Linked DNA regions of Homo sapiens: region 2 is linked to region 1. Evidence: fine-mapped expression QTL. A gene starts in region 1. The other region holds a variant in brackets. All regions are shown on one strand. Distances are between the middles of the regions.

The links.
Region 2: its variant is fine-mapped to the expression of GLDC in whole blood (TOPMed, PIP 0.97).

Annotation. Positions count from the first base shown.
Region 1 is chr9:6,639,850-6,657,264 of GRCh38, reverse strand. GLDC (glycine decarboxylase) reads left to right here and starts at 11,536. Exons shown (of 25, transcript NM_000170.3): 1 at 11,536-12,020; 2 at 12,573-12,651. The coding sequence starts at 11,766. RefSeq lists enhancers at 8,431-8,986, 8,987-9,542, 10,529-10,628, 10,679-10,788, 11,769-12,326 and 2 more and silencers at 11,459-11,708, 11,779-11,978, 12,019-12,088.
Region 2 is chr9:6,593,183-6,601,895 of GRCh38, reverse strand. GLDC (glycine decarboxylase) reads left to right here. Exons shown (of 25, transcript NM_000170.3): 9 at 6,777-6,882. Among named protein-coding and RNA genes, the nearest start is that of GLDC, 48 kb to the left of the region's middle. RefSeq lists an enhancer at 3,209-3,448. The variant A/G (reference allele first, on the strand shown) is at 3,217.

The sequences.
Region 1 (17,415 bases):
CCATGGGGTTGTGTTGAGTCACCGGCCAGCTGTACATTAAAATCCTGATACACACACACACAAACACACAAAGTAATAGCCAGGTGTGGAAGCAAATGCTCTATGCACATTGCCCGTGTGTCCTTAACAGTAAATTAGTGGCCTCTGGGCTTTGAATCAGTCTTTGGCTTTCTGTCCTTTCACAATCCTGTGCTGGTCAATGAGATACTTGAAGGCAGGTCCTCCTCTAGTGCATTTTCTCTACCACCTGTGACCACAGTTATCTTTTCGAATCTGCCTTTCCTCTTTAATTGTAATAAACGAAGAAGTATCTACTTCATAAATTTGCTCTTCGATAAATCCAAGGACTCTAGCTGGACACTCACAGGGCCAGTTAAGAGCTGAGTGGATTTTCTCTTTAAAGGAAGTCATACTGAGTTGTTAATGAGGCTTGGCATGGCAGTAATTGCTTTCAAAGGAGAAACTAGTTAACACAAATGTATCTTTAATTAGCTTATAGTGGGAAGTGATATTTTTGGACAGGGCCCCTGTATCCCTCCATTCCCTCCTTCCCCACTTCACACTTAGCCAGCCAGGAAAGAATATTAAGGTACCAACCTTGCATCTAAATCCTTTATAATTCTGCTTCTCTTGGGAAAGAAAGTATCACCTGGGAGCTAGTCCTGCTTGGCTGTTTTATTAGGAATCCAGAATCTGCATATGTCATATCTCATCTTTAGTAAAAGAATCTGAGAGGTCACAGCATGGCATTAAACCTAGTGCAATAACATTGACATTCATATAGAAACTTCACTTCTGGCTGGGTGCGGTGGCTCACGCCTGTAATCCCAACACTCTGGGAGGCTGAAGCAGGCAGATCACTTGAGGTCAGGAGTTTGAGACCAGCCTGGCCAACATGCTGAAACCCTGTCTCTACTAAAAATACAAAAATAAGGCCGGATGCAGTGGCTCACACCTGTAATCCCAGCACTTAAAGGAGGCCGAGGCTGGCGGATCACCTGAGGTTGGGAGTTCGAGACCAGCCTGACTAACATGGAGAAACCCCGTCTCTACTAAAAATACAAAATTAGCTGGGCGTGGTGGCACATGCCTGTAATCCCAGCCACTTTAGGAGGCCCAGGTGGGCAGACTGCTTGAGCCCAGGAGTTCAAGACCAGCCTCCGTCTTGCTCCATCACTAGGCTAAAGTGCAGTAGTGTGATTGTGGCTCAAGCAATCCTCCCACCTCAGCCTCTCCAGTTTCAGGGACCACAGGCACATGCCACCACACCTGACTAGTTTTCGCCTTTTTCATCCATGTCTCTGCAAGGACATGAACTCATTCTTTTTTATGGCTGCATAATATTCCATGGTGTACATATTATTAAGTCAAGAACTTTCACCTTTTCACTTAAAGGAAGTGCTTTACAGCTTCTCTGTGGCATATCCAAATTGCCAGCATCACTATTCTGAAATTTTGGGCCATTATTAAGTAAAACACAACACTGCAATATCCTGATGGTCAATCTGAGAATGGGACAACTGAGAAAGCTACGAAGTGACTGAGGGTGCACAGCATAAACAGCATGGATACACTGGACGAAGGGATGAATCACATCCCAGGCGCGATGGGGCAGGACAGTGTGAGATTTTGTCATGCTCCTTGGAACAGCATGTAGCTTAAAACTTATGAACTGTTGGCTGGGCACGGTGGCTCATGCCTGTAATCCCAGCACTTTGGGAGGCTGAGTCGGGTGGATCACCTGAGGTCAGGAGTTCGAGACCAGCCTGACCAACATGGAGAAGCCCTGTTTCTACTAAAAATACAAAATTAGCCGGGCATGGTGGTGCATGCCTGTAATCCCAGCTACTCAGAAGGCTGAGGCAGGAGAATCGCTTGACTCCGGGAGGCGGAGGTTGTGGTGAGCTGAGATCGCGCCACTGTACTACAGCCTGGGCAACAAGAGTGAAACTGTGTCAAAAAACAAAAAAACAAAAAAAAACCCAACAACTTATGAACTGTTTATTTCTGGAATTTTCCATTTATGGTTTCAGAAGGTGGTTAACTGCAGGTAACTGAAACCATGAAAAGCGAAACCACAAATAAGGGGGTCTACGGTACTCTTCCTCAGGGGCAGTCTGTGTATTGCAGCACCTTCAGTTGTTACTATGAAAGCCCTGCTGGTGCTGTAGTTAAGTTTTGGAAACAGGGTGTGTTCTATAATGTTCCAATTAAATACTGGTGTTTTCACAGCCCTCTGTCTTGGGCTATGAACTTCACAATTGTTTTTCCAGTGATATAGTTCCTTTCTCTTCTGTCCTGTGTTCTCTGGCTGCAGAGTCGCTGGTTGATTTCCTCTCAGCCCTGACCCGTTTATTCTGTTTTCTTTTATTTTTCCTTCATTATGTAAGACAAGAAGGCTGGAGGAGGCTAGAGTACGAGGCATTCCATTCCTCAGCTGGGATAAAGCTCTGGCACAGTCCCTTCCTTCGGAGAGTAAGCTTTTGCTATGAAGCAAGCTCTGGACATCCCCCTCAAACCTGTCCACACTCAGCCTTCCTTAATTTATCAAAAATATTACCATTTACGTGTTCCTACCTAATGTGTCAAAAAAATTTATTGATTTTCAATTTGTTCATTTTTTTTTTTTTAGAGATGGAGTCTTGTTCTGTTGCCCAGGCTCGAGTGCAGTGGTGCGATCTCAGCTCACTGCAACCTCCACCTAGTAGCTTCGAGAGATTCTCGTGCCTCAGCCTCCTGAGTAGCTGGGACTACAGGCACATGCCACCATTCCCAACTAATTTTTGTATTTTTAGTAGAGATGGGGTTTAGCCATATTGGCCAGGCTGGTCTTGAACTCCTGACCTCAAGTGATCCACCCACCTTGGCCTCCCAAAGTGCTGGGATTACATGCGTGAGCCTAGCCTTTATTTTTATTTATTTATTTTTAAGACAGGGTCTTGCTCTGTCACCCAAGCTGGAGTGCATTGTCAAAATCATAGCTCAATGAAGCCTCAAAATCCTGGGCTGAAGTGCTCCTCCTGCCTCAGTCTCCTATGTCCAGCCCAGAGTGGTTTTAGATATGTAGGGTTTACCATTATCTTATGTTCTAGTAACCTAAGATGCCTGGGTATTTTTGTGTCCTTAGTAAATGGCCACAGGTATCTTTGAGGGAGTTCAGAAGGAAGATTTATAGTATATTCTCATAGCCTGGTAAGATCTTTTTTCAAGAGTCCTTTTTCAACCTCCCCTTCATCTGGGTCTGTGAACTCTCTGAAGTCAGGGAATTGGTTGAAAAGCTGGGTCTCTCAATTTTGGAGACTTATATCAAGTTTTTGTTCACCAGATCAAGTTACATCTTTAGTAGTCTGCCCATCAATTTGTGAACACCAAAGATCCCCGTGGATCACCTGACGGGTTACCCCTCTGATCCACTGCCCATTATGACAACGTTGCTCATCTCCATTGACCAGTGCTGCCACTTGGCTTCTACCACTCCAGGATTCCATCATTAACATTAGAATCAAGGAGCCCATCTCAACAGTTCCATTGTGTACCACCATCTTATATCTGTAGAGGACCGCAGCCACAGGACTTTTCAAAAACACTGGTGCTGCTCTTACCAATGGACTTCCCAATACTCTGGTGAAGGGATTGTCCTCTGGTTTCTTCTGAGGGATACACTGAAAGTGCGGAAGAGTGTGTTACTCATGACAAATCTACTTCAACATTCCTTTCTCACCAAGACTTAGATCCTTCTCTATTATTCCAAGGACGTTCTAGGATTTCTTTTTTTTTGAGACAGGTTTTTTTTTTTTGGAGACATGTCACCCAGGCTGGAGTGCAGTGGCACAATCATGACGCATTGCAGCCTCAACCTCCCAGACTCAAGCAATCCTCCTGCCTCAGCCCCCAGAATAGCTGGGACCACAGAGGCATGCAACCACACCCAGCTAATTATTATATTTTTTGTAGAGACAGGAGTCTCACCATGTTGCTCAGGCTGGTCTAGAACTCCTGGGTTCAAGTGATCTACCCTCCCCAGCCTCCCAAAGTGCTGGGATTACAGGTGCAAGCCACTGTGCCCGGACAGAAGTCCTAGTATCTTAACCTAATTTAATGAAGGCACTGTTAAGTATGATTTCATCAATCAACTCAGCAAACTAAAAAGCCACTCCTGGCTGATTGAGCTAACACACTGAATCCAGAATCTCTCGTACTACAAATAAATCAATAATTTCAATTTTATATTCCTTTTTGTCTGGTTTAGAATCCACTCCCATAGAAACCCTCTGGTGATAATATATATTAGCAACATTTTGCAATTCTTTCCTTGTGTAAGCTTCTCCTCTGATGTCAAATGTTCTACTCATCTTCTTGGGGTATGGTTAAGATCTGATTCTGGTTGTGGATCTGAAAGCAAAGAAGCATTGACATTCCATTGCAAGGTTAGTGCCTTTAGCGAAGTCATTACAGGATCTTCATGCAAGGTATTGCCAGTTTATGAAAGAGGGCAGGAGGAATGGGTTTACCTATCAAAGGAGACTCAGTGGGATTTGGGGTTTCAAGATAATAAAATTCATTCCAAGCTACAAACATGTTCCCATTCCAAGTTCGAAGATTTCTTTCTTTCTTTCTTTGTCTTTTTTTTGTTTTGTTTTTTCCTTTTTGCGGAGAATGGGGTCTCGCTATACTGCCCAGGCAGGTCTGGAACTCCTGGGCTCAAGCTATCCTCCCTCCTCTGCCTCTCTGAGAGCTGGGATTACAGGCGTGAGCCACTGTGCCCAGCCCTTTCTTTTCTTTTTTTGAAACGGAGTCTTGCTCTGTTGCCCAGGCTGGAGTGCAGTGTCTCAATCTTGGCTGACTGCAACCTCCACCTCCTGGGTTCAAGTAATTCTCCTGCCTCAGCCTCCTGAGTAGCTGGGATTACAGGCGCCTGCCACCATGCCCGGCTAATGTTTGTATTTTCAGTAGAGATGGGGTTTCACCATGCTGCCCAGGCTGGTCTTGAACTCCTGACCTCAAGAGGTCCACCCACCTCGGCCTCCCTAAGTGTTGGGATTACATGCGTGAGCCACTGCACCTGGCGATTTCTTTCTCATTTAAGAGATGGAGTCTTCTGTTGCCCAAGATGGAATGCAGTGGTGTGATTATAACTAGGACCACAGGTATGTGTCACAATACCGGCTTTTTTTTTTTTGAGATGGATTCCCACTCTGTCACCCAGACTGGAGTGCAGTGGCGCAATCTGGGCTCACTGCAACCTCCACCTCCCAAGTTCAAGCGATTCTCCTGCCTCAGCCTCCTGAGTAGCTGGGATTACAGGCGCTCGCCACCATGCCTGGCTAATTTTTGTATTTTTAGTAGAGATGAGGTTTCACCATGTTGGCCAGGCTGGTCTCAAACTCCTGACCTCAGGTGATCCACCCACCTTGGCCTCCCAAAGTGCTGTGATTACAGGCATGAGCCACCGTGCCCAGCCCTGGCTAATTTTTAAATTTTTTGTAGAGACAGCCAGGCTATGCTGCCCAGGCTGGTCTCAAACTCCTGGTCTCAAGCAATGCTCCTTCCTCAGCCTCCTGAGGTGCTGAGATTATAGGCCTGAGCCACCATGCCAAGCCTTTTTTTTTTTTTTTTTTTAATTTTTAAATTTTTAAATAGCTGGGACTCCTGGAGCAGTACCCCCAAGACCTCATGGATACGAAGGGTTTCCAATTAATTCCAAAATTTCACTTATGGTCCAATTTCATCATAGTGCCTAAGAAGTTCATCTGAATTTATGCCATATTATCCATAGCCAGAATTCAGAGCAATTCTGGAATCAGACAATTTGACACCTGTAAACTGTTCAAGTCTAGGGTCTACATCAACACCCCCCAACTTTTTTGAGATGGGGTCTCGCTGGGCTCCCCAGGCTGGTCTAGAACTCCTGGGTCCCGGCTAGGACTACAGGCATGTGCCATCATGCTCAGCCCCATGAACAACTTCTATATGTATAGCTCTGCGTAAAAAGACCATTGTCAACTGCACATATATAAGTTTATTTATTTATTTATTTATTTTTGAGACAGAGTCTCACTCTGTCACTCAGGCTGGAGTGCAGTGGTGAACTCGGCTCACTGCAACCTCCACCTCCCAGGTTCCAGCGATTCTCTGCCTCAGCCTCCCAAGTAGCTGAGACTACAGATGTGTGCCACCGCGCCTGGATAATTTTTTTATTTTTTGGTAGAGATGGGGTTTCACCACGTTGGCCAGGTTGGTCTCGAACTCTTGACCTCAGGTGATCCACCCACCTTGGCCTCCCAAAGTGCTAGGATTACAGGTGTGAGCCACCGTGCCTGGCCCCTTTATTCATTTCAAGGGCTATGGTTCCCGAAATGTCACCAAGTTTGTTACATTACTGTCCACTTTCTTCATCCTCTTCTCTTTTTCTTTTCTTCTCTTTGCTTTTTTCTTCTTATTTTTAAGTCTTCTTTCTTTTAGACTTTACATAAGAATATTCTGATGAATGCCAGTTGTGGTGGCTCATGCCTGTAATCCCAGCACTTTGGGAGGCCGAGGCAGGCCGACCACAAGGTTAGGAGTTCGAGACCAGCCTGGCCAACATGGTGAAACTCCATCTCTACTAAAAATACAAACAGTAGCTGGGCATGGTGGCGGGTGCCTATAATCCCAGCTACTCGGGAGGCTGAGGCAAGAGAATTGTTTGAACCCGGGAGGCGGATGTTACAGTGAGCTGAGACTGCGCCATTGCACTCCAGCCTGGGCAGCAGAGTGAGACTCTGTCTCAAAAAAAAAAGAAAAGTATTCTGATGAGACTTCTGAATAAGAGGTGGAAGCTGGCTCAGGACAAAATATTTGTGCTAGAGCAGAACGGGCAGGGGAGGAACAAAAGTGGAGGCAGGCCAGGTGCGGTGGCTCACGCCTGTAATCCCAGCACTTTGGGAGGCTGAGACGGGCGGATCACCTGAAGTCAGGAGTTTGAGACCAGCCTGACCAACATGGAGAAACCCCGTCTCTACTAAAAATATGAAAAAATTAGCTGGGCGTGGTGACGCATGCCTGTAATCCCAGCTACTCGGGAGGCTGAGGCAGAAGAATCGCTTGAACCTGGGAGGCGGAGATCGGGACATTGCACTCCAGCCTGGGCAACAAGAGCAAAACTCAAAAAAAAAAGAAAAGGGGGAGGCAAAGGAAAAAACTCCCTGAAAGCTCATACAATGGCAGGGAGTGAATGTGTCTCTCAGGAATCTCTTGCCTTTTTCACCCAAACATTAAGCCCTCCTCAATCTGCTTTTGGCTTCCATTATAGCCTTTGTTTGGGTTTATTCAGGAAAACTAACTGTTTTGAAAAAGCACTATAACTGTGCTTCCTCTGGTCTCACACCACACTACAACAATCAACACAGAAGATTTCCATGATCTGGCTGGGCGTGGTGGCTCATGCCTGTAATCCCAACACTTTTGGAGGCCAGGGTGGGCGGATCACTTGAGGTCAGGAGTTTGAGACCAGCCTGGCCAACATGGGGAAACTCCATCTCTACTAAAAAAAAAAAACACAAAAATTAGTGCGTGTGGTGGCATATGCCTGTAGTCCCTGCTACTCTGGAGGCTGAGGCAGGAGAATTGCTTGAAACTGTGAGGTCGAGGTCACAGTGAGCTGAGATCGCACCACTACACTCCAGCCTGGGCAACAGACCAAGGCTCTGTCTCAATGGAAAAACAGAAAGAAGAAGATGACTTCCATGATCCCGAAATATATGGGGATTTCTCCCCACCAACAAGCAAGCAGTCGGTTCTGAGGCAGACACCAGCTGGGTGCACTCCACTTCAATTCTGACACTCTATCTAGGGATACCGCCAGATCCCAAGGGTTGAGGGCTCAGTCCCCAAGACATCAGTTGCAATTCTAGGCCTCCAGAACTTCTGACGGATCAGCTTGAAGCTGGGGTTTCCATGATCCCTTCTTTGGGTTTGATTAATTTGATAGAATAGCTCACAGAACTCAGGGAAACACTTATGTCTACTGATTTTTTATAAAGGATATTACAAGTAACACAGATGAAGAGATGCGCAGGGCGAGGTAGGTATGGGAGAAGGGGTGAGGACCTTCCATGGCCTCTCCCCATGTGCCACTTTGTGTGTATTCAGCTATCCAGAAGCTCTCTGAAACCTCTCCTCTTGGGTTTTTGTGTGTGTGTTATTTTTGTTTTTTTTTTGAGACCGAGTCTTCCTCTGTTGCCCAGGCTGGAGTGCAGTGGCATGATCTTGGCTCACTGCAACCTCCACCTCCCGGATTCAAGTGATTCTCCTGACTCAGCCTCTTGAGTAGCTGGGACTACAGGTGCCCGCCACCACGCCCGGCTAATTTTTTGTATTTTTAGTAGAGATGGGGTTTCACGGTGTTAGCCAGGATGGTCTCGATCTCCTGACCTTGTGATCCGCCCACCTTGGCCTCCCAAAGTGTTGGGATTACAGGCGTGAGCCACCGCGCCCGGCCAATTTTTGTATTTTTAGTAGAGATGGGATTTCACCCTGTTGGCCAGGCTGGTCTCAATCTCCTGACGTCAAGTGATCCGCCAGCCTTGGCCTCCCAAAGTGCTGGGATTACAGGCATGAGCCACCACGTCCGGCTCTTGGGTTTTTATAGAGGCTTTATTAGGAAGGCATGATTGATTAAGCATTGATCATTGACCCTCTGCCCTACTGAGAAGTTGAGGGTGGGGCTGAAAGTCTCAACTCCCATTATGTCTTTGTCTTTCCAGTGACCAGCCCTATTCTGAAGCTGTTAGTCACATTAGCATACAAAAAGGCAGGAGTCTGGAGATTCCCAAGACTTTAGGAGTTGCAGGCCAGGAAATGGGATGAATACCAGATATGTATTTCACAACATCACACAGACAAATAAACAAAAAACACTCAATGCATTTCAAGCAGAGGAGAATTAAATGTCAGGAATGGGTGCATACAAAACCACTGGAAGAACTGGAAGAGCAAAAACCAGGGAATACCAACGCTATCTTCAGGTCAACCACTGAAGCTCTAGTCTAGTACACAGAAATTCCTGCTGGGGAACTGCAGGACATTCCCATTGGTGGATACAGCTTCCCAGCTACCTCAAGATGGGGTGCTGGTAAGGAAGCATGTCATGTCTGCAGTGGTCCATGCATCTGTCTGCTGCAGTCAGAAAATAAGAAAACAGTTTTTACCTTTGTTCCATTTCCCAATTCTCTCTCTCTCTCTTTTTTTTTTTTTAGGCAGAGTCTTGCTCTATCACCCAGGTTGGAGTGCAGTGGTGCGCTCTCCGCTCACTGCAACCTCTGTTTCCCAGGTTCAAGTGATTCTCATGCCTTAGCCTCCTGAGTAGCTAGGACTACAAGCACGCCCACCAAACTTGGCTAAATTTTTTTTCATATTTGTAGTAGAGATTGAGTTTCGCCATCTTGGCCAAGCTGGTCTTGAACTCCTGTCCTCAAGTGACCTGCCCGCCTCGGCCTCCCAAAGTGCTGGGATTACAGGAGTGAGCCACCGCACCCGGCCCCAATTCTCATATACATATATGTGTGTATATATACATGTTTTTTTTTGGCAGAAGGCAAATAACATCCATCACCACGGAGCCAAAGGGATCTGGGAATTATTGTTCCCTGGCTTCCAGTCCCTCTGATACATAGAAACAACATAGACAGGAATAGGAATAAATGCAGATTACCTCCTCCCTCCAATCCTTCCCCACAACCCCCACCATCTGGCACTGAGGAGATCTCCCAACTTTTATGAAGGTTGTAATTTCAATTCCAAATGGCCGAAAAACTTTTCGGAGACATTCAGCCCAGCCGTCCTAGCTCACCACCCGCCTCCGTCTGCCATACAGACATTTTACCTACTGTTCTTTGTGGTGTATTTTCCTGCCCTCTTTTCCATCTCTACTTTCCTGCCTCTCTGGATAGTCTGTGCCTCCTGGGTACGGAGCCCAGAATCTGTTAAGGGTGATTGGAGGAGGAAACTTAGCAGATAAGCAAGAAAGAGAACAGGTTTTATTTTCCCCTAGTCTAAGTACAAGTAATGTTCTGATTACTTCTGTCCTCTCTTCCCCATATTAGAACAACTGGAATTTTAAAAGTTCATTCTCTTGCTAAAACTGTCATGAGACAGCTGGAGATGGTACATTTACAAAAAATCCAGTTCTAGATGGCTAACTTTCAAAGTAAGACGACAGTGAACAATGTCTATCTTAATATCCTTTGTACTTTTGCTGGGCGCAGTGGCTCACGCCTGTAATGACGGATCACGAGGTCAGGAGATCGAGACCATCCTGCCTAAAACGGTGAAACCCCGTCTCTACTAAAAATAAAAATAAAAAATGGCCGGCCGTGGTGGCACGTGCCTGTAGTCCCAGCTACTCAGGAGCCTGAGGCAGGACAATCGCTTGAACCCGGGAGGTGGAGGTTGCAGTGAGCCAAGATCGCGCCACTGCACTCCAGCCAGGGCGACAGAGCGAGATTCCGTCTCAAAAACAACAACAAAATATCCTTTGTAGTTTTACACACACACGTATATGTATATACAGTACATATATTTAAAAAAACATATACACACACACACACAGTTCTTTTTTTTTTTTTTTTCCTGAGTCTCGTTCTGTGGCCCACGCTGGAGTGCAGTGGTGCGATCACATCTCACTGCAGCCTGAAACTCCCTGACTCAAGCAATCCTCCCACCTCAGCCTCCAGAGTAGCTGGGACTTCAGAAGCACGCAACCACGCCCCACTAATTTTTGTATTTTTTGTAGAGACAGGGTTTCACAATGCTGCCCAAGCTGGTCTCGAACTCCTGGGCTCAAGCTATCCTACCGCGTCGGTTTCCGAAAGTGTTGCGATTACAGGCGTGAGCCATAGCGTTACATGTGGTGGGGGGGAAGAGAGAGAAAGAGAGAGAGTGAGAAGAAGGAGGAGGAGGAGGAGGAGGAGAAAGAAGGAAGAAAGAAAAGAAAAGAAATATAGAGAGGGTGTTCAAATCTACTGTTCAAGTGCTTTCCATGTACATATAATCTCTTTTTAAAATCCCATCCAGCTCTGTTGAGATGAGAAAACTGAAGCTCTGAGAGGTTGAGTAACTTTATCACGCTCCCGCAAAGATAAAAGAACCGCCATCTGCCCATATTAATTTCCCTGAGATGAAATGTGACAGAGAAAGATACCTCAAAATTAAGGAAATGGAGAGCTTCGAGAATCATCTTCCATCTCCGCCGAGTCCCCCAGGAACTTGGCCCGGAGTCTTTGGGCTGTCCCACCTGATCTTGCCCCAGTGCGGCTCCACACCCTGGCGGGCGGCGTACGGAGCGTCCCGGCCCCCGGCACCAGCCAGCGTCGGAGTGGGTAGGACTGGAGATGGCAGCCTCCGGTCCAGGGGAAGCGGGACTCCACGGAAGGGCTGGGAAGAGGGTAGGAAGAGGGGGCGGGGGCGGGAACTGTTCCGCCCCCTCCCCCTCTGTCTACTTTCATTGGCCAAGGGCTTCCTGGCCCCAACCCACCTCCCGCCTCCAGGGCGCCGCTTAAAGTGTGCGGAGCAGGTGCCTTGGGTGGAGCCACAACTTTGCGCGAGTGTCTTGGTTGAGCGCAGCGCCCATTCATTGCCCGCGAGCGTCCATCCATCTGTCCGGCCGACTGTCCAGCGAAAGGGGCTCCAGGCCGGGCGCAGCCGCCACCCGGGGGACCGAGGCCAGGAGAGGGGCCAAGAGCGCGGCTGACCCTTGCGGGCCGGGGCAGGGGACGGTGGCCGCGGCCATGCAGTCCTGTGCCAGGGCGTGGGGGCTGCGCCTGGGCCGCGGGGTCGGGGGCGGCCGCCGCCTGGCTGGGGGATCGGGGCCGTGCTGGGCGCCGCGGAGCCGGGACAGCAGCAGTGGCGGCGGGGACAGCGCCGCGGCTGGGGCCTCGCGCCTCCTGGAGCGCCTTCTGCCCAGACACGACGACTTCGCTCGGAGGCACATCGGCCCTGGGGACAAAGACCAGAGAGAGATGCTGCAGACCTTGGGGCTGGCGGTAAGGACCTCCACCCGGCCCTCCGCGGCCTCCCCTCCGCCCTGCCCGGGCTCTGCCTGCGCGGCCTCCCGGCTCCTACCCTGAGCTCTGCTGCGCTCCGCGTGGTCCCCGCACCCTGGGTCCCGGGCCGTGGCGTGGAAGCAAATTCGTGCCTTTGGTCCTCGTGCCTTCTTACTTCTTAACAGCTTACTTTCTCCTGCACCCAGTCTTCGTGCCTCAAAAGTGTACATTTTTAAACCACCCCCAGCCCAAGTGGCCCTGTGGATGGACCTAAACTTTGCAAGAGGAGGAAGACCCCCTGATTAAGAGTGGGCTTACCGGTTAGCTCCGGTTGCAACTGAAATCCAACCCCGAGTGGCGGAATCTCCACCCCACTTCACGATTTTCTTTCCTCCAAATCATTCTGGCTTGCTCAGAGTTTTCCTTTTCTTTTAAAAAGAACCCTAATTAGGCGATTTCAATGAGGTTCCCACAAGGCTTTGTAGTCGCAAAACACAGAGGTGACTCTTTTAACTCAGAGGCACTTTCCTCTGCCTTGCGTTTTAATTTTAGAGCATTGATGAATTGATCGAGAAGACGGTCCCTGCCAACATCCGTTTGAAAAGACCCTTGAAAATGGAAGACCCTGTTTGTAAGTGGCCGGGAGGGCTCCCTTGGACTTAGATTATTCTGGCCTATTTGTCTTTTGTGGTTCCCTGAAAATCGAGCTCTGGGGTAAGGATTGCTCAGGACTGGGAATGTGTGGATTAAAATAAAACAGTGGCGGGTACCTCCGGAGCCGCGGGAAGGTGGGATATTTGGTTCTCGGAGCAGACAGTTTTGTGTTAGGAGAGAGTCGGTGTTGTGCGGTTCTTGGTCTTTATCCTAGGGCCCCCGCGAGCTTCCCCTGCGTTTTGTAGCAGATTCCCCACTTCCCAGGCACCCTCTCACCGGCCAGGGTGCTCTCATACTTTGGGTTGAGAGGTGTCATTACCTGCGCAGACCCGGATAGACTCAAAGGATCTAGGAATTGCCTAAGGTCGTGCAACTGGGGAAGTGACCAGACATCTCGCCTCCCTCCCCCAGGCTTCTTTAGATCGCAGTATCTTCCAATTGTTTTCTTACCTCACGTCCAAATTTTATTATTTACCAACTGAAAGACAGCAGTACTTTTCGAGTCCGAATGGTTTTTCTTTTCTTTTCTTTTTTTTTTCGTTTTTTTTTTTTTTTTTTTTTGAGACAGAATCTCTGTCGCCCAGGCTGGAGTGCTGTGGCTTGATCTCGGCTCACTGCAACCTCCGCCTCCCTGGTTCAAGCAATTCTCCTGCCTCAGCCTCTTGACTAGCTGGGATTACAGGGGCGCACCACCACACCAGGCTCATTTTTATATTTTTATTAGAGACAGGGTTTCTTCATGTTGGCCAGGCTGGTGTCGAACTCCTGACCTCAGGCAATCCGTCTGCCTCGGCCTCCCAAAATGCTGGGATTACAGGCACGAGTCACTGTGCCCTACCCCGAATGGTTTTTCTAGAAAAACACACAAATAAGATTTACATTTGTTTAAGAAAGGTCAGTTTAGTCATAGACTTTCTTAGAATTTTATTTTAGGTTTAAAATATTTTTAATGGTCCAAGATTGCTTTTCAGGGGTATTTTTATGTGGGTATTTGACTTCCATGGGGTGGGGGGACAATCCATAAGTCAAGGGCACAGGCTGAGCTCTTAAAAAAAATCTCATCTGGTTATCTCACTTTCAATCATGGAGATACTTATCTCTTTTTCTTCTAGAGTCAAATGAAGAGAGAGCAGCTGTTTTATTTTGTTGCTATGATAGAAAGGATCTAGTGTGCAGATGGCAAGCTTTATTTTGTTTGAAGGTGGACATTTGAGGTATGGAGCCTATCTGCTTCAGGTTGGCTGCTCAGGCTATGCTGAGGGCTGCTGCCTTTGTTGGTTTCAAATCTGATGGTCGTTGAAAACCTGCATGTTTTGCTGAATTGAACTAATTGAGATTTAGGGATGGTCGGAGGGAAGCCTTATCTATTTCCATTTTAGAAAATCAGAATCCTGGCTGGGCACGGTGGCAAATGCCTATAATCTCAGCATTTTGGGAGGTCTAGGCAGGTGGATCGCTTGAGGCCAGCAGTTTGAGACCAGTTTGGGCAATATTGCGAGACCCCATCTCTACAAAAAATACAAAAATTAGCCGGGTGTGGTGGTGTGCGCCTGTAATCCCAGCTACTCCGGAGGCTAATGTGGCAGAAACACTTGAGCTGGGCAGTGGAGGTTGCAGCGAGCCAAGATGGCTCCACTGCACTTCCACCTGAGTAACAGAGTGAGACCCTGTCTAAAAAAAAAAGAGAAAGGAAGAAAAGAAAAAATCAGAATCCTAATTCATTTGATGTGTGAAGAGTGAAGAGTTGTGTATCTTTAAAGCAGGGTATTTTAGGTGAATATTTGAACAAGTGAATCCCTTCCTGAGACTTTCAAAGTCAGGGAATGTTTAGGTTAGCTATTTTTATAATATATATACTCTAAAATAAAGTGTTCTTTTCAGAGCATTAGAGCCTGGGAAACATGGCAAAGTTGTGTATCCTTTTTTAGTTTAGTTCTTGGTTCCAGCTGAATAATTTGAACATTAAGGGATTCTGATTCTTCACTGTGGAAGTGGGCTCCTGAAAAGTAATTTGCAACTTGAATATAAACTTAATTTTTTTATTTTTTATTTTTATTTTTGAAATGGATTCTTGTTCTGTTGCCCAGGCTGGAGTGCAGTGGCATGATCTCTACTCACTACAACCTCTGCCTCCCCGGTTCAAGCCATTCTCCTGCCTCAGCCTCCTGAGTAGCTGGGATTACAGACGTGCACCACCATGCCCGGCTAATTTTTTGTATTTTTAGTAGAGATGGGGTTTCTCCATGTTGGCCAGGCTGGTCTTGAACTCCTGACCTCAGGTGATCCACCCACCTTGGCCTCCCAAAATGCTGGGATTACAGGCATGAGCCACCATGCCCATGCCATATAAATTTTAAACCTAGCAGCTTCTGTGACATTTTGAGCTTGTTCCATCTAGTTTGGGATGATTCACGCAGAAAATATTGCACAATCAGAAGTCCCCCCATTCCCTGAAATGGACCAGTTCTCCAACAAAGCTTGTTTCTTGGAATAGTGAGCTGGGGGTGTTGGGAGAGTGGAGGAGGATGCATCTGCAAAGGATGAATTTTGACTCTGAGGTGTGCACGTGTCATGGTGAATGAATATTCTCCAGGTGGGGAGAGCAAATTGGTGCATGTAAGCTCTGGTAGTAGCATTTCCATTTAATAGTGGAGCACCATTACTCAAACTTGGCTTCATGTGAATGCCTGTGTTCTAGTGTAGTCAGAAAGGAATTCTGGATTAAATATTTATTTGCCATGTACAGAGAAAACTGTAGTGAGAGCTAGTTATAGGAGTGTTAAATGTCTTCATTGCAGAGTAAAGATTGTGATCAGTTTGGAAATACTTGGGTTACTTATTACACATAACTCAGTAATCTCAGACATTTATGTAGTGCTTACCATGTACTGGACACTCTTTAACGTGCTTTCATGTATTAATGTATATTACAACCCTATGAGGAAAATACCATTAATACTTCTGTTTTAAAAATGAAGAAACCGTGATATTCAGATGATGCATGACTTGCCCAAGGTCATAGCTGGTAAGTGATGGAGGCAGAATTCAAACCCAGGCAGCCCAGCTCCACTGTCCACACTCCATCCACTACTTTGCTCTCTCTTCATTTTGTCCTTTGCAAGGTCGTGGGTGTACAAAGTGGAAAACTTCTGTCCTGACTCACCTGGAATATCCAGTTTACAGATGTGCACAAACCCAGTTGCACTAGAATCACCCTGCCATATGCCAACTGCCCCAGTGGAAACGCAGCAGCTTCCTGGCAGCACAGACGTGGGAACACTCAAGCCTGCTGCTAGGGCAAGGGAAGGGGTCACGGAAGTGCAATACTGAAGAATGAGCAGTGATGCTCTGCTAGATAAATCTGGGGGAGGCTGCTGGAGGTAGTGGGATTAACATGTATAGGACAGAATGGCCGGACAGAACCAGGGGAGGACGGGTGGTTCATCAGTCACTAAGGATGCTCCCCCTCTTCTTGGACAATTCAGAAAGTGCCTTGACAAAATACTTTGATCATGAACTGGCTGCTAAGTAAGTCATTATTCAGAGAAACAAGCAAAGCTATTCAGTTCAAAATCCTGTCCTGCTCAAGTGAATCCTGCATTCCCCATCCACACGCACTCAACAACAACAAAAGGACTAGAAGGATATGTGTCACTGGCAACACTGATTTCTCTGAATGGTGCCCTTATTAGTGGTTTTAGCTTTCCTTTAATTACTTTGCAGTTTTGGAATTTTCTGCAGTGTAGGTATTCATTTTATAATTAATTCAAAGTTAAAAATTACTTTATGACCAAAGCCAGTTACTTTTAGCTATGGTATGCCTCGCTGTGTAGTCTTTTCAGTGAATTCATCTCAAGGCAACTAGACTGAACTAGACTGAACTAATCATAGATAAACTGCAGGGATTAAAGTTTACACAAAATTGCACATTGCTTGTGGAAGAGAGAGGAGAAACTAAACCCTCCAATGTTCACATTATTCAACTAGAACTGAGGAGATGAGTTGTCAGAATGATGGACTTGTGCCAGCTGAATGTTCCAGAGTGATTTCTACTAAATGGTTAATGGAGGGCAGTGAGCGGAGGGAGGGAGCATTGTGTAATGCAGCTGCAGGTGTTGGCTTTGTCACCCTAGTTGGGTTGCGCACTCTCCTGAACTGACCCCAGGGGCAACTAGGCCGTGGCAGCTGTTCCCCAGGCCGAGGCCACGACTTGTCTTTAGCCAGATGATGCCCATTGCCAGGTCCTGCCTGTAGGCCCCGCAGTCTGTGACAAGGCTTTCCTTTGGCCATTCCCGACTCATTCAATTCCCAGCTTATAGGAATTATTATTTCTTCTTTAGGATGATTCCAATAAATTTCCATTAAATGACTGTAACAGTAAAGATTAGCTAAATGAGAGAAACAAAGGCTGTAATGAGCTTGCTGTAGCAAGGGAGTCAGACTTGCATATTGGCAGAGGAGAGGAAAGCTTTATTGTGGAAAAAAGGGAAGCCTTTAGGTGTGTTCTGATTGGAGGTTGTTTACAAGGGAAGCTGTCTGAGGATTTACTAGAAGTCGGGCAACTGATGTGATTGGTTATGGGTACATGTTTGGCTTAGCCTGGTTGGTCCTATGTTGGAAGTGGGACAAAAATTAGGGAAGCTATCAGTTATTAATCGAGTTCTGGCCATTTGGGGCCAATTGTTAGGGAAGTTGTTGTTCGGTTTCCTGGATTGTCACTAGAGATAGCAATCTGGCTTTC
Region 2 (8,713 bases), 51 kb after region 1:
ACCTTGTGAGGCCAAGGCAGGCAGATTGCTGGAGCCCAGGAGTTGGAAACCTGCCTGGGCGACATGGCGAAACACCATCTCTATGAAAAATAAAATAAAATAAATTAGCCGTCAGTGGTGGTATGCTCCTGTAGTCCCAGGTGCTAGGGAGGCTCAGGTGGGAGGATCACCAGAATCTGGGAGGTTGAGGCTGCAGTGAGCCATGATTATGCCACTGCACTCCAGCCTGAGTGACAGAGGGAGACTCTGTCCCCAACTCCTGCCCCCACAAAAAAAGTTAAAGAAAAAGACACTGTGTTTTACTGGTGTTCTTTATATGTACACCATTTGCCTATGCTTTCTCTTCACCATACATGTTTTAATACTAAAAAAAATAAAAAGCATTATTTGTTTCATTTTACCCATAATCACATCTTCAGATCCTGAACAGGCAAAGCGTAAGAAAGGACAAAAAAGGCCAGTCTTCACTTTTATATACAGACTTAAAATATATGTAAATAGAAAGATGGATATCAGGGTCTCTAGTATTCTTGGCGTTGGGCCAGGTTTGTTATGGGTGGCAGTTGAGACACCCTCTCTTAGGACTGAGAAGGAGCCTCTCCAGGAATGGGTTGAGGAAGGCAAAGCAAGGGCATTTGTGATGACTGTGCTTGAGGGGATGGTGGTAGTCATGAGGCACTCTTACTGGGAGATTATGACTGGCATTCTTTTTTTTGTTTTTTCGAGACAGAGTTTTACTCTGTCGCCCAGGCTGGAGTGCAGTGGCGCAATCTCAGCTCACTGCAACCTCTGCTGCCCGGTTTCAAGCAATTCTCCTGCCTCAGCCTCCTGAGTAACTGGGATTACAGGCGCCTGCCACAGCGCCAGGCTAGTTTTTGCATTTTTAGTAGAGACGGGGTTTCACCATCTTGGCCAGGTTGGTCTTGAACTCCTGACCTCATGATCCACCCACCTCGGCCTCCCAAAGTGTTGGGATTACAAGCATGAGCCACTGCACCTGGCCATGTCTGGCATTCTTTAAAAGGATGGGATAAAACAGGAAGAGCTTCCTGGGTTCTGACCAGGGTTCTGGGTTCTGCTCCTTGAAGTTGCTCCAGGGCTTAGGTCGAAGTGTTTGTGAAACCCAGCCAAACCCTAGGATCAGTTGGAGGCCCACTCCTGAGCACAGGATCCATTCTAAGTGCATCTCTTTTTTTTTTTCTTCTTCTTTTTTTTTCTTCTTTGAGATAGAGTCCTGTTCCTGCGTCACCCAGGTTGGAATGGGGTGGCGCAATCTTGGCTCACTGCAACCTCTGCCTCCTGGGTTCAAGTGATTCTTGTGCCTCAGCCTCCTAAAGAGCTGGAATTACAGGCCACCACACCCAGATAATTTTTGTATTTTTAGTAGAGGCAGGTTTCATCATGTTGGCCAGGCTGGTCTCAAACGCCTGACCTCAAGTGATGGTCCTGCCTGGGCCTCCCAAAATTTTGGGATTGTAGGTGTGAGCCATGGCACCTGGCTTCTTTTTTTTTTTTTTTCTTGAGACAGATTCTTGCTCTGTTGTCCATTCTGGAGTGCAGTGGCATGGCCATAGCTCACTGCAGCCTCAACCTTCAACCTCCAGGGCTCAAATTATTCTCCGGTCTCAGCCTCCTAAGTAGCTGGGACTATGGGTACATTCCACCACGCCCAGCTAATTTTCAAAAAAATGTTTTGTAGAGGCGAGGTCTCACTTTGTTGCTCAGGTTGGTCTCAAATTCCTGAGCTCAAGTGATCCTATCTTGGCCTCCCATAGTGATAGGATTATAGGCATGAGCCACCGTGCCTGGCCACTGTAATTGCATCTCTTCCATGAAGTGTCAGAGAGAGATGTCACAGGTGCTTCAATGGGAGGTAGAGTGCTCTTTCGTCTCAGGGCTTTGGCGTCTAGAACCACCTCTGAAAAGCTTCTCCAGGAAGGCAGTGGGCAATAAGATCTTCTTATAGTTGGTTCTGCAGCCACGGGTCTTTGGAGCCATTTCCTCAGTTGGTCCTTTTGTATTATGTTTTGCCTCAGGAAGGTGCCACCTCTTTTCAAATATGAGCTCTTCCAGTATGATAGGAAGGAAAGGTGGTTGGCACAGGCTTTTCCTCTGTTGAACAGCAAGCTGATCTTTATTTATTTATTTGTTTTTTTGGTTGTTTTTTTTTTTTTTGAGATGGAGTCTTGCTCTGTCACCCAGGCTGGCATGCAGCGGCCCAATCTCAGCTCACTGCAACCTCTGCCTTCCAGTTTCCAGCGATTCTCTTGCCTCAGCCTCCTGAGTAGCTGGGATTACAGGCGCCTGCCACCATGCCCAACTAATTTTTCTATTTTTAGTAGAGACAGGGTTTCACCATGTTGGTCAGGCTGGTCTCGAACTCCTGATCTCATGATCTGCCCACCTCGGCCTCCCAAAGTGCTGGGATTACAGGCATAAGCCGCCATGCCTGGCCACATGGTGATCTTTATATGGTGGCCTCACTTTCTGTAGCTTACCCTCCATTTGTTGAATTCTCTGCTTACGTTTTCCCTTTCGGTGCAGCTGACTGCTCCTGTCTTGCTGTTTCTCCTCAGGTTCCTCCAGGTTTCCGTCTGATCATAAGTCCATTTAGGGCCTCAGTTTTCTGCCTCTAGGTTCATTTTCCAGGTGAATTTGGGCTGTCTGCAGTGAACCAGTTATGTTCCTGTTTCTTTCTTTTTTTTTTTTTTGAGACGGAGTCTTTCTCTTGTTGCCCAGGCTGGAGTGCAATGGCGTGATGTCGGCTCACTGCAACCTCCGTCTTCCGGGTTCAAGCGATACTCCTGCCTCAGCCTCCTGAGTAGCTGGGATTACAGGCACCCACGACCATGCCTGGCTAATATTTTTTGTATTTTTAGTAGAGATGGGGTTTCACCATGCTGGCCAGGCTGGTCTCGAACTCCTGACCTCAGGTGATCCGCCCGCCTTGGCCTCCCAAAGTGCTGGGATTACAGGCATGAGCCATTGTGCCCGGCCTTATGTTCCTGTTGCTTAATTTCTTCCAGTTCATGTATAGCTGATAATTTATTATTTAACTTGGGTTGAAAGGTCTGTATCTTTTCCAGCAATTGTTAAAATGTTTGCCCTGGAGATGGCCATACTCCAGCTTGTCTGATTTTCATCCTCTTATTCTGATGATCTTCTAACTCTTCACTGTCTATTTCACTGCATATGTGCCTTTTCATAGTTGATTGC[A/G]TACAAGAATTACTCATAACTCCAGTTTCACTCTTTGTGAGCATGCAAGTCTCCCTGTTTTGTTAGGAGATGACTGGTGTCTTTTGAGTTGTTCCTTTTGTGCTGTAGGTCTTTGACCCCCGCCTTCTGTTGTAGCAGCTGTTCCACATTCTTCTCACTCTTGCTCTTCTCTCTTGTCACTGGGGTGGGTGGGGGAGTCCACTCTTAGTTTCGCATCGTGGATGGGGCATGACTCTTTTTTAATCTCTGAAAGTGTGTTAATGATTCTTTTTTAAATAAATTTTTCTATAGGGAGTCTCTCTGAGCCTATTCTGGCTCAGCAGGCCCCATTCTAAAACAAAACTGAAAAAACAGGGTGCGGTGGCTCACACCTGTAATCTCAACACTTTAGGAGGCCAAGGCAGGAGGATTACTTGAGTTCAGCAGTTTAAATCCATCCCAGGCAACATAGTGAGACTCCTGTCTATATAAAAAAAGTACAAAAATTAGCCAGGTGTTGTGGTACACACCAGTATCCCAGCTACTCAGTAGACTGAGGTGGTAGGAGTGCTTGAGCTGGGGAGGTCCAGGCTGCAGTGAGCTGCAATCACACCACTGCACTCCAACCTGGGTGACAGAATCAGACCCCACCTCTACAAAACAAAAAGGAAAAGAAACAATTTTTTCTATAAATTTGTGGCATTACTACAGATGTCTGAATTTTCATTATGTTCTGTTCTTTATATTCTCTTATTTCTTTTTTTTTTGGAGACGAGTCTCGCTCCATCGCCCAGGCTGGAGTGCAGTAGCGCCATCTCGCTCACTGAAGCTCTGCCTCCCGGGTTCACGCCATTCTCCTGCCTCAGCCTCCTGTGTAGCTGGGACTACAGGTGTCTGCTACCATGCCTGGCTAATTTATTGTATTTTTAGTAGATACAGGGTTTCACCATGTTAGCCAGGATGGTCTCGATCTCCTGACCTCATGATCCACCTGCCTCAGCCTCCCAAAGTGCTGGGATTACAGGCGTTAGCCACCATGCCCGGCCATATATTCTCTTATTTCTTAGCTTCTACCACAATGAGCAGCTCTTTCATTGGCTTTTCTTATTTTTAATATAAAAATCTTTTTAAAATAGAGATGGGAGTCTTACTTTGTTGCCCAGGCTAGTATTGATCTCCAGGCCTCAAGCGATCCTCCTGCCTCAGCCTCCCAAAGTGTTGGGATCACTGGTGTGAGCCACTGCATCCAGCCTTGTTGGCTTTTCTAAAGTCAGGTGTAGTAAAGAATAATTTACACTTTATTAGCTTTTTTTATTGAGATGTAACTCACCGTAAGTTTCACCAATTGCAAGTATACAGCTCAATGGTTTTTACTCTATTTACAAGGTTGTGCAACTATCACCAGTATTTAATTTCAGAATATTTTTATTACCCCAAAAAGAAATTCTATTCCTATGAAGTAGTCACTCCTCATCCCTCTCCCCTTCCTATAGCCCCTGGCAACTACTATTCTACTTTCTGTCTCCCTGGATTTGCCTGTTCTGAATATTTCATATAAATGGGATCATACAATGTGTGGCCTTTTGTACCTGGCTTCTTTGCATAAGGTTTTCAAGGTTCATCCATATTGTAGCATGAATGTGTACTTAATTCTTTTCTATGGCTGGGTAATATCCCATTGTTTGGACATGCTACATTTTGTTTATCCATTCATCAATTGGTAAACATTTGGGGTGTTTCAAATAAGCCTGCTGTGAACACTTCTGTGTAAATTTTTGTATGGATGTAATGTTTTCAGTTCTTTTGGTTATATTCCTAGCAGTGAAATTGCTGGGTCATATAACTCTACATTTAACATTTTGAGGAACTTCCAGACATTTTTCAAAGTGGCTGCATTATTTTACTTTCCTACCAGCAGCATATGAATATTCTAATTTCTCCGTATTTTCACCAATGCTTGTTACTTCCTATCCTTTGGTTATAGCCATCCTATTGGATGTCAAGTGATAATCTCACTGTGGTTTTGTTTTGTATTTCCCTAATAACTAATGATTTTGAGCATTCATTAGCTTTTGAGGCTTTTAAGTACCTTAATTGTATTATTGTTATTTTATTTATTTATTTTAGAGATGGGGTCTTGTTATGTTCTTCTTGCTGGTCTTTAACTCCTGGGCTAAAGCAATCCTCCCACCTTAGCCTCCCAAAGTCTTGGGATTACAGGCGTGAGCCACTGATTCAAGCCCTTTGTATTTTTAAGTTTGTTCAATTTGTGAAAGAAATTGTCATTTTCTTGGTCTCTATTTTAATTTTTTTGGTTCTTCTTTTGATATTCTAGTGCCCTTTGAAGTTTTTAAAAAGTGGTTTTATACTTCTCATCAATTTGTTGTTCAGCCGTGTGATATAGCCTCCTGATTATGGAAGGAATCATCTGTAGATTAAAAAGGGACATGAACCAACCTCTACAATATTGTGGTGGAGGCTGCCAGGGCATTCTGTGAATGTCAGGCCTGGGTTTCTGTTTCCAGCAACACAGCCATGAGCATTTGGGCACAGTGTGTCACAGATTCTTTACCTCAGCCTCGCCTTTTCCACAGCTGTAAAGTGCTGTGGAGTTTCTGTGTTTATTTCTGATTGTTGTAAGGAGTCCATAAGAGTGTTTACACTTTGTCTAGGACTTTTAGTACAAGAATGCCTACTTCCATGTTTTCTGATGTCTCTTTCTCCTCATTTACTTCCTTGTTTGCTGACTTCACCTTTGGAAACTGTTTCTTATTTTGCATTGGCTCCATAGAGACTTCCTCTAGTAGTCTAGCAGAAAAAAAGATGTACCTAACAAAATGGACCCAGTATTGAACATCAACTGTATTTTGCAGAGACAGGGTTTTGTATTGTCAACCGGGCTGGAGTCCAGTGGCGCAATCATAGGTCACTGTAACCTCGAAATCCTGGGTTCAAGTGATCCATCTCGGCTTCTGGAGTCACTGGGACTACAGTTGCACACCACCCCGCTCCCAGCTGAAGTGCGCATTGCCGTTTTTGCCAGTCCTTTGCCACAGATTCTCCATTCAACTCTTGGTTGGCAGAAGTTCAGCCTCTAGTGTTTTATTTAAGTTCTTAGGAGAATTTTATTCCTGAAGTTCTTGAATGTTTGAAAATTGCTTGTTTCTTTTTATTCTTGAAGAATTGCCTGGTTGAGTGTAAAATTCTCAGATCTCACTTTTTCTCCCTGAGGTCTTTATTGCTTCACTGTCTTCCAACATTAAACATTGCTTCTCAATGTCTGATGGTAGTGTGATCTTTGCCCTTAAGGGTGACATGATTTTGTTGCATGGAAGAAGCCCTTCGTAATGGTCAAATGTGAAGGTTTAGTATAGTAACAACTCCAGGGTGTCTTGGATGATGGTTCCTTTCAGGTAGTCAGGCAGGTTATATATTAATTGTCCCCAACTATCAAAGAATGTAGGAAATCTGATCATTTTGTTTTGTCGCTGTCTTCAGTTTTGACATCCCAAGTCAAGTAATTACACCCTCCCACTAATTGTCCTCCATCACGTGATTCTTTAAATGTTCTTATCTTTTAGGCCCTCTTGGCGAATATGGCTGCCATGTTTGCAATCTACCATGGTTCCCATGGGCTGGAGCATATTGCTAGGAGGGTACATAATGCCACTTTGATTTTGTCAGAAGGTGAGTTGGTAATCTGTCTAAAACATTTGGGCATAATAAAATTGATAAATTTGAGTAAAATTGAAAATATTGCATGTCCAATACTATATGCAAAATTAAAAGTCAAGTGAGAAACGAGGAAAAATACTTTCAACATCCATGATTATTTTGTTGTTTTGCTTTCTTTCTTTCTCTTTCTTTTTCTTTCTTTCTTTCTTTCTTTCTTTCTTTTATTTCCTTTTTCTTGCTTTCTTTCTTTTTTTCTTGCTTGCTTGCTTTCTTGCTTGCTTGCTTTCTTGCTTTCTTGTTTGCTTGCTTGCTTGCTTGCTTGCTTCCTTGCTTAATGGAGTCTTGCTCTGTCTCCCAGGCTGGAGTGCAGTGGCACGATCTCAGCTCACTGTAACCTCCACTTCCCGGATTCATGTGATTGTCCTGCCTCAGCCTCTCAGGTAACTGGGATTAAGGTACACGCCACCATGTCTGGCTAATTTTTGTATTTTTGGTAGAGACAGGGCTTTGCCATGTTTTCCAGGCTGGTCTCGAATTCCTGACCTCAAGAAATCCGTCCACTTTGGCCTCTCAAAGTGCTGGGATTACAGGCGTGAGCCACCATGCCTGGCTTAGACTGAGTGTTAATATTTTTTTCTCTTTTACTCCTGGCAAGCTGTGATATTTTTAATATGTAGAACTCTTACTTTCCTACCGGCCCCAAACATAAGAAGGATGAACACCCTAATAGAAAAATAGGCAAAAGACATTAAATGTAATTTTAAAAGAAATAAGTATACAAATAAATGGCCAGTAGACATAGAATTTTAGCCTCATTATTAATGAAAGAGATACAAAATAAAGCAATAAACTAGTATTTATCCCATTACATTGGCAATCAGAAGAATGCTGCTATGTAGTGAGCTAGACATGGTTACTCGTGTATGTAATGTCAGCTACTCTGGAGGCTGAGCCAGGAGGATTGCTTGAGGCCAGGAGTTCAAGACCAGCGTGGGCAAGAGCGAGACCACATCTCTATAAAAAAATAGAAATAGGCCAGGCACAGTGGCTCATGCCTGTAATCCTAGCACTTTGGGAGGCTGAGGCGGGTGGATCACTTGAGGTCAGGAGTTCAAGACCAGCCTGGCCAACATGGTGAAACCCTGTCTCTACTAAAAATACAAAAATCAGCTGGGAGTGGTGGCATACTCCTGTAGTCCCAGCTACTCGGGAGGCTGAGGCAGGAGAATTGCTTGAATTTAGGAGGCGGAGGTTGCAGTGTGCCAAGATTGCTCCACTGTACTCCATCCTGGGCAACAGAGTGAGACTCCATCTCTCAAAAAAAAAAAAAAAAAGTGATTAAATCATGGTTCATCCATATGTTTGACTATTGTACAGCCATTAAATATGGTTTAAAATAGTGATCTATAGGAAAGCATAGATGAGACCAGGTGTGGTGGTTCACACCTATAATCCCATCGTTTTGGGAGGCTGAGGTGGGAGAATTGCTTGAGTCCCAGAGTTCAAGGCCAGCCTGGGCAACATGGCAAGATCACTGTCTTCAAAAAATTTAAAAAATTATTAGCCAGGTGTGATGGCATGAGTCCTTGATCCCAGTTACTTGGGAGGCTGAGGCAAGGGGATTGCATGAGCTTGAGCCCAGGAGTTTGAGGATGCAATCAGCTATGATCATGCCACTGCATTCCAGCCTGGACAACAGAGTGAGACTGTATCTCTCAAAAAAAAAAAGGTATAATTTTATATATATATATATATATCTGATACTACCTGCTCCCCCATTTCTTGAGAAATAATACACCAAAATACACGCAGTAATGCAATTGTATGTTGATTTTCCTTACTC